Linked DNA regions of Homo sapiens: region 2 is linked to region 1. The links come from fine-mapping of genetic effects on gene expression. A gene starts in region 1. The other region holds a variant in brackets. All regions are shown on one strand. Distances are between the middles of the regions.

Region 1 (5,371 bases):
TGGTCTAGTGGAACAGGAGCACAAAGGCCTTCTTGGTTCTTTTTGTGATTCTGAGAAGCTGCAGACCATGAAAACCTGAGGAAGGGACAGGAAGCCCGACCTACCTCCCCCAGTCCAGCTTTGGATGGGGATGCTAGCCCTTCTCCCCGCCCATGGGCTGATTGAGATGATGGCTATGACTGCATGTGTATCCTACACAGCATCAAGCACATGGCACCAGGCATCCTGGAAGGCCCCTGCCTGGGATCCCAGGAACCTACCTGCCTTTGGTTCCTGCAGGATCCTTCCTGATTTGTACTGTTTGGGAAAGACCAAGACCAGGCCTGGCAGTCGGAAGCCCTCCTTGTTTCCCTTCCTTGCATCAACTGACCCTGTTGGTTGTCCTCCTCCAAGCCCCTGTCTCCTGCCCACCTGCTTAACCGACCACACACCTGCATATATGGCCTTCCCTTCACTTCGGGCCCCTTCCAGCTCAGCCTCCACCCCTTGCAGCCTCTGCCTCAGCTGGTCTTCGGAAGCCTTGGCTCGACGGGCTTCATCCCTCCGTAGAGCTGTGAGCAGTCCCAGAGCCGCCGTCAGGACTGGCTGGGTCCCACTAAATCAGCCCCCATGAACGTGATGGACTTTGCCCACCTCTAGAAATCTGGTGGTGGGGTGTCCAGCCTCTTACTCTCTCTCTGGGTTTTGTTGTTTTTGTTTTTTATCCCTAGAGTCTCACAGGCTCCTCATTATTAAGAAGTAAAAACTCCCTCTATGTTCTTTTCGGATAGCCTGGCATGGTGGCTCATGCCTGTAATCCCAATATTTTGGGAGGCTTAGGTGGGAGAATTGCTTGAGGCCAGGAGTTTGAGACCTGCCTGGGCAACAGAGTGAGACCTTGTCTCTATAAAATAAATAGGGCCAGGCGCGGTGGCTCACGCCTGTAATCCCAGCACTTCGGGAGGCCAAGGCTGGTGGGACACAAGGTCAAGAGTTCGAGACCAGCCTGGCCAACATGGTGAAAACCCGTCTCTACTAAGAATACAAAAATTAGCCAGGTGTGGTGGCCACGTGCCTGTAATCCCAGCTACTCGGGAGGCTGAGGCAGGAGAATCGCTTGAACCTGGGAGGCAGAGGTTGCAGTGAGCCGAGATCACACCACTGCACTCCAGCCTGGGCGACAGAGCACAAGACTCTGTCTCAAAAAAAAAAAAAAAAAAAAAAAAAAAAAATAAATAAATAAAGTAGCCAGGCATGGTGGTGTGCACCTGTAATACCAGCTACTCGGGAGGCTGAGGCGGGAAGATTGTTGCGGCCCAGGAGTTAGAGATTACAGTGGACTATGACCATACCACTGCACTCCAGCCCGGGCAATAGAGCAAAATTCTGTCAAAAAAACCAAAAAAAACAAAAAACAAACAAACAAAAAAAACACCTTCCTTTATCAACTCTCACTGCCCACCCTCTCTCATCATCTTTTTCCACTAGGGGATGGTTAGGGTCAACTTAACCCCCCACCATACCTCCAACTCTCCAATCCCCCAGGATACAGAAATGCCCCATTTCACTTCCCCTGTTGCCCACCCATGCCAGCTTCTACCCTCCTTACCCAAGTGGTCTCGGAGCAGCTCCTTCTCCAGCACCACCAGCCTGTGCCTGGACTCGGCCACCACATCTGCACCTGCGGTGGCAAGTGGCAGAGCCTCAGCTCTTCATGATCTCAGCATTCCTCACTCTGCTCACATCCTCACCCCACACCCTGCACTTTTGCCACAGCAGACCTGAGGACCACTAAATGAGGTATCCACAGTGGCAGAGTCTACTGAAGTCAGCACCGTGTCCTCACCGACCAGCACATAACAGATATGCAAAATACACATGACAAATATATTAGGAAGGCACAGAGCTAGATGGGGCTTAAAGGAGAGCGTGGGTGACCATTTCCCCACTTCCTCAGCTCCCTGGATCTGGCTGTGAGGACATGAAAGAGGTAGGTCAAGAGAGCTCCATCCTGTCCTGCAGAAGGCTGAATTCTCTCTGGAGGAGCTCTGCGTGGTCTTCATGGCAGAACATGGAGAAGCAGGGGGCACCTCCACCCACCATGACTCACCCCAGTTCTTTTTCTTCTTCTGTGCCCCAGATTTCTTCCCTTTTTCTTTGTTTTTAGGTGGCATCTCCTTGCTGTCCTGGGAGAAGGAGGGGACCTTATGTTTAGGTCTGGACACAGGGATGCTTTCCTGAGCTTTAGACTGAACCAGGAGACTCTCCTGAGTCCAAATTTGTCTCTCATATCCTTCAGAAAAGTCAGTTCACAGTCTCTTTGGAACCTCAGACAGGGTTGGGGTCAGTGGGGAGGATGGAGTTTTTTCTCTCAACCAGGCTGACTCTGTACAGAAGTCATTCCTTGCAACTCTCTTTTAGAGAAACGAAATCCCTGTACCTGCTCCCCTCCCTCTTCCCATCATCCTCAACCCTCACTTCCTACCTGTAGGATCCTCTCCTGCCAGCGTTGGGGCTCCCCGTGGAGTGACCCACTCGTGGGGAGTGGCAGAGAGAAGGCCCAACTAGCGAGGAGCCTGAGGCGGGGCCTGGGTCCTGGGAGCCAATCCTTGGTGGCAAATTTCTCTTGAGGGCAGGACTGAGGGCTGGAAGGTTGGGTTTCCAGAGGCTGTATGTTGTCCAGGCAACTGGGAAACATGGAGTTCACAGGAAGGTGGAATGGGCTAAATCAGCTCACAAAGTTTAAAATATCAAGGTCTCAAAGGGTCAGTTCTTTCCTTATCCCAAAATCCTAAGTATAGTTTGAAAAGAAAGGGCTTTGGAGGTCGATTAGTTATGATTCATTGCCATGTAGACATGGCCTGCAATTTGGAGACTTCCAAATTCAGATGTACACATCTGAGATAATATGTGGTGCTGATACAGAGGAAAAGGACTGACAGTAGCCATGTTGGACAACTGACATCCCGAGGTCCCACCAGCAAAATGACATTAGTAGGCTTAAAACTGAAGATCTAAGCTGGGGCGGTGGCTCGTGCCTATAATCCCAGCATTTTGAGAAGCTGAGGCAGGAGGATTACTTGAGGCCAGGAGTTCGAGACCAGCCTGGACAACACAGTGAGACCTCATTTCTACAAAAAAATTAAAAAATTAGCCTGGTGTGGTGGTGCACACCTGTAGTCTCAGCTACTTGGGAGGCTGAAGCAGGAGAATCACTTGAGCCTGGGAGGTTGAGGCAGCAGTGAGCTATGATTGCACCACTGCACTCCAGCCTGGATGACAGAGGGAGACCCTGTCTCAAACAAACAAAACTCCCAGACCACCGAAGATCCTCTTCAGTACACTGTAGAATGAGGGTAATAAGTGCAGGAATAGGTAGTCCAGGGAGTTTCCCACTTCAGAGAAATGAGACGCAGAGGAATAGTGGACCCATGGACTCTAGGGTACTGACCTAGAGGGATGCAAGTGTGGAGGAAAGAGCTCAGGTTAGAGACAAGACATGTGAGTTTGAGTCCCAACTGTGGATATGTAAACTGAGGCGAGCCATTTGACTTTGCTCAGCATCAGTTTCCTGATCTTTAATTGTTTGATTTTGCAGCTCTTGAAAAGCCTGTGTTTTAGCTGCGTGTTTACATGGCTATCTTCTCTCCTAGTGACTTAATCTATTGCTACATTTCCCCATTCCCTTGTGTGGTTGATTTTCAGACAGGTGTTGAGACATTGCTTTGTGAGGCTCCCTGTAGCATAGAGTTGGTTGGGGCTCCCTCTAGTGGACTTGTTTGACCTTCTCCTGAGTTTCCTACATTTTTGCTTTTAAATTATTTACTGGGCAACAGTGGGGGTGACTCCCTTTGGGGATACTTCTTAGCGTCCTGTTTGAGCCAGGAGTGGCTGGAAGAATTAACATTGGGGAGAGAGTATGATGGGTGGCCCTCCCTTGTCAGGCAGCCCTCACTTTCCCTCCAGCTCTGTGCTATCCTGGAGGCTTGCCATTTATCTGCCACTTGGATCTCTGGGCACCATACTGGTTAGAGTGAAAATAGCAAAAACTTCAGGACTTTTCTCCTTTTGGATTAGGGGACCTGCAGACCCTTTCTTTTCTTTAGGTTTCTTTTTTTTTTTCCCGTGTCTCTCTCTGTCACCTAGGCTGGAGTGCGGTGGCATGATCACGGCTCACTACAGCCTCAGTCTCCCTGGGCTCTGGTGATCTTCCCACCTCAACTTCCTGAGTAGCTGGGACTACAGGCGCATGCCACCACACCTGGCCAATTTTTGTATTTTTTGTAGAGATGGGGTTTTACCATGTTGTCCAGCATGGTCTCAAACTCCTGGCCTCAAGCGATCCACCTGCCTTGGCCTCCCAAGGTTCTTGGATTACAGGCGTGAGCCACTGCACCAGCCTATCTTTTTTTTTTTTTTTCTTCAGACAGAGTCTCGCTCTTGTTGCCCAGGCTGGAGTACAGTGACGTGATCTCGGCTCACTGCAACCTCCACCTCCCAGGTTCAAGCAATTCTCTGCCTCAGCCTCCCAAGTAGCTGGGAATACAGGTGCCCACCACCACGCCTGGCTAATTTTTGTATTTTTAGTAGAGATGGGGGTTCACCATCTTGGCCAGGCTGGTCTTGAACTCCTGACCTCGTGATCCACCCGCCTTAGCCTCCCAAAGTGCTGGGATTACAGGCGCGAGCCACTGTGCCCGGCCTTCTTTAGGTACTTCTCTTCATCTCTGTCACCCTCAATATTTTTGGTCCATTGCCTATTGTCAGGAGCAGATCTGTAGAAATAGCCACAAGAGGCTGGGCGCGGTGACTCACGTCTGTAATCCCAGCACTTTGGGAGGCTGAGGCAGGCAGATCATGAGGTCAGGAGTTCGAGACCAGCCTGGCCAACATTATTAAACCCTGTCTCTACTAAAAAATACAAAAATTAGCTGGGCATGGTGGCACGTGCCTATAATCCCAGCTACTGGGGAGGCTGAGGCAGCAGAATCGCTTGAACCCAGGAGGAGGAGGTTGCAGTAAACAGAGATTGCGCCACTGCACTTCAGCCTGGGCAGCAGAGCAAGACTCCATCTCAAAAAAAAAAAAAAAAGCCACAAGATCTGGAATTGAAAAGTCCTTCTTCTGGGTAGTGGGTAACTTTAGGCAGAGGCTGGTTCATGCTTGTCACCTTGGTGGCTGCACGGCACTTACATGAACTTCCGGGCATTTTACAGAGCAAAGAGAAGAGCCAGTCTTGACTTCCCAAGTGCTTCCAGCTCCTGTAACTCAGAGTCAACTAATCTTGTGGACATCTCCCAAATCTGGAGGATATTTTTCTTCTAATCTTTTATTTATTTATTTTTGAAGCCAGTGGAATTTAGTAGTGGGCGCCTGTATACCAACTTTAGTG
Region 2 (5,371 bases), 110 kb after region 1:
CCTGGCCTCAGAGCCATTTATATTCCCAGAGTAGGCAGTACAGGATCTCGTGTTGATTTGCTGTGGTTACCCAGTGTCTTCTCTACATGGCATAAAGCGGCAAAGCCCACCATTAGGTGAGGCGGTCCCGAGTTGAGGTAGAGTGGGGCAGAGGAAGATGGCAGTGAATATCAAACAGTAGACCGCCATCAACTTCTAACAGCCAGTACACACACTGTTTCATTTTGAGGTAACGTTCAGTTTTGCATTTTGTTTAAATATTGAAGGCCTAGACAAAGAACTAGAAAAAAAAAAGCAGTTTCCAGGCCCATCCATATTGTAATTTTTCTTTATCTGCAGATATTGCCTGTAGTCTAAAGATCTCTTTGGAAGACAAAGCATTGGCTATATATCTTTTGCCTTTTCCATGCATCTAAATCTTCTCTGGAGATTATCTCCCTACTGTGTAGGTTAAGGGCAGTCTCGACTTTTCCTTTTTTGAGTCCTGTGTGGCTCTTTGAATCAGCGTGAAACTGAGGCTCCAGCTCCCTGTGTTGTGTGTGTGTGCCATCCATGGGCTTGGGTGTCAGTTTGTCACAGGTATCTGCCAGCATTCAAGGTTTTGGATCATTTCATGAGGATCTTTCCTTTGACTGGGTGCTGTGAGGACACACCTGGGTCTGTGCCTGAGATTGCCAGGCAAGATTAAGGAAAGTTTTCATGTGGCTTTTGTTTTGAGGTTATTCTCAAAACCTTAATTTCTTATATTTTCTGTTGACTAAGGCACCAGTAACCCATTCTTCACCCTCCATTTGTATGGCAATTTAAAAGTCTTTGGCTTTGCTCTGAATTTAATTAAAACTGCCTTTTATGAACAGACTTCGAGTTTTGCCATTTTGGGCAAGCCCTTCCGCTTGTCCCTTCCTAGTGGCTAATAAAGTAAAAAAACCCACACTACTTTGTTCTCTTTTTCTCATATTCATTGGGCTGTTGTATTCAGCCAGTCTCATGCTTTCCCTGGGTCTTCACGGATTGCTTTCCAAGCTGCCTTGTTGCGGGGTTGCTGCAGAGCAGCAACTGGACCTTTCCAGCTGTCGCCATGTTCCTTCCACTAAAGTAGAGGGTTCTTAAAATGGAAAAACCTGTGGGCTCTTCATATACCTCCCTTTAGTTAAGTAATAGACCAGGCAGCTTCTCATCTCAGCATTTACCTGTTAATATTTTTGTGAATAGTGCTCTCTACCTGTGGGTGGCCGTTCTCTTCCACTTGCTCGTCTCCCCCCAGCCCCATTCTGCATAATCTACCATTCTTCTCCTCTCTTTCTCTTCTTATACAGACCCTCATTACTGGGGCCCAAGATGTGGGATACTACTGTTAGTATTATTTAACTATTTTGTAGATTTAAAAGATTTCTGGTTAAGGGAGGTGGGGGTCACTGTTCATCACTCTTAAAATATGTGTTTTCTCTATAGAAAAGTAAAATGTGTTTATGGTCCCAAACAGTCAACTCACAAATTTTTATAACAAAATTTCCTTGTAAAAACTAGGGACCATCTATATATTCCCTTTAAGATCTAGTTCTTTTTGTAGGTGTTCAGCAATGGTGATAAAGCAGAATATTCTCCTACCTCACGTCATTAAAGTCAGAAGATTATAGACCTTCTCAAACTATAAGTCCCTCTTCTTGCCGTTGGCCTTTCTGACTCTGGAATGACCACTGTTCATTGAAAAATAGTTTTCTGACTATTGGTCTGGCTCTAACAGTTTGTTTGTTCATCCAGCAAATGTTTATGAGTGATGACCATGTGCCAGAAATGTCAGGTATGTGTCCTTCCCTTGGCGCCACATAGTAGTTTACTAATGTTTGGGGGATTGTACTTGGACTGTCATAGCCTCTGCGTTTGACCTTAAAATAGCTCTTCCCAGTAAGATTGTGCAATTTTTATTCACAGCTCTTCCATGTAGACTTACCTTTCCTCATAGAGCTATCCTGGTTAATAACAGGCCAAGATTCTCCCATTATCCCCTGTTGTCTCCTGTAGCTTTGATAATGCCTGGGAGATTCCTTGGTGTAAGTGTCATGGATACCGACTGTTTTTATGTTGGAATTTGTTCCAACATAATTAGAATCTGTTTGGTGAGTTGAAAGGTAAGTTGGCTCAGAGTTGCACAGTAGGGCATTAAATGTTTAAGCAAAGCATCTGCCCACACTCCCCTTTCCAATCTAGTGCCTTCCTTGAACTTTTTCCTGAGCTGCTACGTCCCTAATCCCCCTTGTTGGGAGGATTTTCGTATCACCCTTATGGGACCTGTCACCATGTCCTGTACTATTTGGAATTGGTTTTCCAGTCTTTCAACAACCGTTGTGGCTAACTATGTTTTAGAAGGGCTGGAGGTGTGGGCCCTGTCTTCGGGTCTCAGGACCCAAAGATCCTTTAGTCAGTTGTTGGGTCTTCCAAGAGCCAGACATTAATACAGATTGAACTCCATCAGTCCCCTAATTGTCAGCCTTTACCTCCCTCCCAGAGCAAGGAGTTTAGGGATTCTAAAGCTTAGTGTCCACACATCATTCTACCAGACCTTAGAGCTTTAGAAGCTCAATCTAAAATACTGTAACTCAGCATAAACTATTACTATCACTCCTTTGAACTCAGTCTCCATGAGCAGTGTTTTGTTGGAAATACATAGAACGGCTTAATGCCTAGAGGGTGGTGGATAGTGAAGGACGGTCAAGGTTATATTTTTGACTGCTTAGGGATTCTTTGGAT[C/A]CAAGAAACAGAAATGTTCAAGCGGAATAAAGGAGGGAGTGGAGTTGTGGTAAGGATGCAGGGTATTTCGCAGAACCCAGGACGGGAAGTGCCTTTGGTTCTTGGGTGGAGCTGGAACTGCAGAGCTTTGCACCTAGTCCTTTCTCCCGCTTCACAGTCTGCTTATGGTATATGTGGCCCCCAAATAGGCACTCTAGTCCTCAAGTCTACACCACCTTCCAACTCTGGGGATCACCATGAACAAATTCTCAATTTCCCATACTTAATTTTTTTTTTTTTTGAGATGGAGTCTCGCTGTGTCGCCCAGGCTGGAGTGCAGTGGTGCAGTCTCAACTCACCACAACCTCTGCCTCCCAGGTTCAAGCAGTTCTCTGCCTCAACCTCCCGAGTAGCTGGGATTACAGGCGCCTGCCACCATGCCCAGCTAATGTTCATATTTTTAGTAGAGACAGGGTTTCACCGTCTTGGCTAGGCTGGTCTTGAACTCCTGACCCTCATGATCCACCCACCTCGGCCTCCCAAAGTGCTAAGATTACAGGCGTGAGCCACCGCGCCCGGCCCATACTTCGTATTCTTAAAAAAAACTACACTCAGCCCAGCACATTGATCAAGTATCTATCTCTGAGCAGTTGGCCTTGCCAGGGAGAGCAGAGATGTGGCAGGCTCCTTCAGCTGGAGACAGGGAGCTTCTCAGAGAAGTGAGCAGAGACTCCACAGACACCCTAAAAAGGCTTCTACTCAAGAAGTAAAGCCACTACTCCTGCCTTTTTGCTTAGTGGACAGGAAGGCACAGGAGTTTGTCTGGGACATCATAGAAATTCTTAGGTTTAACTTAATTCTGGTCATTGTCTTCTTTATTTCCTGTTTTTCTTCCCTTTGTCAGTCTTCGCATCCAAGATTTCTTCCCTCCCTCTTGTGGGCCAGCCTGTCCTGTTCCAGAGCTAGCCTGTTCCTGGGTAGCCTTCCTTAGCCTCCATTCAGCCTCAGGTCTTTTGCCTTCTTCCGTGTTTATTTAGAGAGCAGAATCTAATAACGGGTTCCACTGTAGCCACTATCCATGGACTTCTGGGTCCTCTTCAGGTTTGAGTGCTTGAAAATGTTCATTCTCTGGGCTTGTGGCCTGTCTCCTCCACTCTCCTCCTCACCCTCTCGCTCCTTCCTGTGTGAGGGCCGCTCTGCAGTAATGTTCTCAGGCAAGCCTTCCTAGGCACCTCAGAAACTACTTTGCCAGAGCCAGTAAGAATATATAATATTGGAGCAGTTGCCAGGATAGAAATTAAATATAGATTCCAGTTTAGGATAGAGTTTTTACCGAGAGCTCTTTAGACAGTATACCTGTGTCTTCTCTGGCAATTGCTTTCATTTTAGTCCTATATAAAAGCTTTCCTTTTCTGTTTTTTTTTAAAACTATGCTTTTGCTTGCCTAAATCTTTTGATCTTATATTTCTCTCATCTCAGAGCCTGTCCTGAGTTGTAAGGTATTTCATACTGCCTTACTTAAAAGTTTTTTAAACTACTAGAGTCATTTGATACACACAGAAGTTACCTAATAATCCAAAGATGTCCATCAAGGGAGGAAGGGTGGGTCATCAGACTTTGCCTTTGATGTTGTAGACTAGGCTCCTGAGTTAAGCAGCAGAGGGACAGCAGTGCCATGTGCCTTCACTGTGTCCCAGGAAATCTGGGTTGGTTCCAGTGGGAAATACCAGTATTTCTTGGTTCTGGAAAGTAGCAAAAGAGTAGGAGATGGGGAAATAGGGATGGGGAGAGCAAGCCCCGCATGTCCATGGCGAGTCAGGTGGGGAGCACGGGTGGAAGGGCCGGCTGTTGACAGACAGACTAAGCTGTGTGGTGCTCTTGCCGCCCCTTCCTGGGTACAGAGCTTGAGAAAAATGCAGCCGACCACTCCCTGTGTTTGTACAGAGCAAAGCCCAAAAGCCAACCTCAGATCTCCTGATTTGGCAGCTGAAGAAATCAGCAGAGTCCTGATTGCCTGATTCAGTCCCAAAAATGAATGTCAGGCCCCGCCCCCTCCCCACCAACATTGCCTCTCCTACATTCTCCTTCTGCCCCTAAATCAGACAGGAGGCCAGAGAGGAGTATTGCTCAATGCGTGCTATGTGCAACTCCTCAGGCCTTGTGCCACCTCCATGCTGAGCCCTGAAGCAGGGTGTCCTGGGTGCCTGTGTGTCAGCTCCCTCCTCTCTACCTACCTCTGACCTTCTTGTGGGTGAGGGTGGCCATGCTTATGGCCATCTTAAAACTGGAGAGGCAGAGAACTACTTATGAGTCTGTAGACCACGTGTTGTCTTCCATGGCCTGTTTCTCCTGCTGTCTGGGTGAGTGAGCCTGCAACGCAATGCCCATGAGAGTAAATGCCTCCTGACCTACCCTGCTCAGCACTGTTCTAGTGTCTTGGCCTTGAAAGAAAAGCCTGACTTCCTGCTGACACATGTGGTAGGGGCATGGCAGCTATGAGGCACCTCCTACGTCTGTTTTCTGGCTGTGGTGACTTGGGATTTTTAACCTTATATATCTTTTTCCTTTACTCAAAACAAAACAATTTTTAGCACACTGAAAAAAAAAAAAAGCCAAATGTTTTGTGCCTTTCTAAGGCAGCACT

The links.
Region 2: its variant is fine-mapped to the expression of DRC12 in esophagus mucosa (GTEx, PIP above 0.99).

What each region holds. Positions count from the first base shown.
Region 1 is chr11:119,193,335-119,198,705 of GRCh38, forward strand. It overlaps DRC12 (dynein regulatory complex subunit 12 homolog), which reads right to left and starts at 2,507. Exons shown (of 7, transcript NM_001145018.3): 1 at 2,465-2,507; 2 at 2,090-2,165; 3 at 1,589-1,660; 4 at 432-551. The coding sequence starts at 2,153.
Region 2 is chr11:119,301,617-119,306,987 of GRCh38, forward strand. It overlaps CBL (Cbl proto-oncogene), which reads left to right. Exons shown (of 16, transcript NM_005188.4): 16 at 1-5,371. Among named protein-coding and RNA genes, the nearest start is that of MIR6756, 8.7 kb to the right of the region's middle. RefSeq lists an enhancer at 4,872-5,371. The variant C/A (reference allele first, on the strand shown) is at 2,749.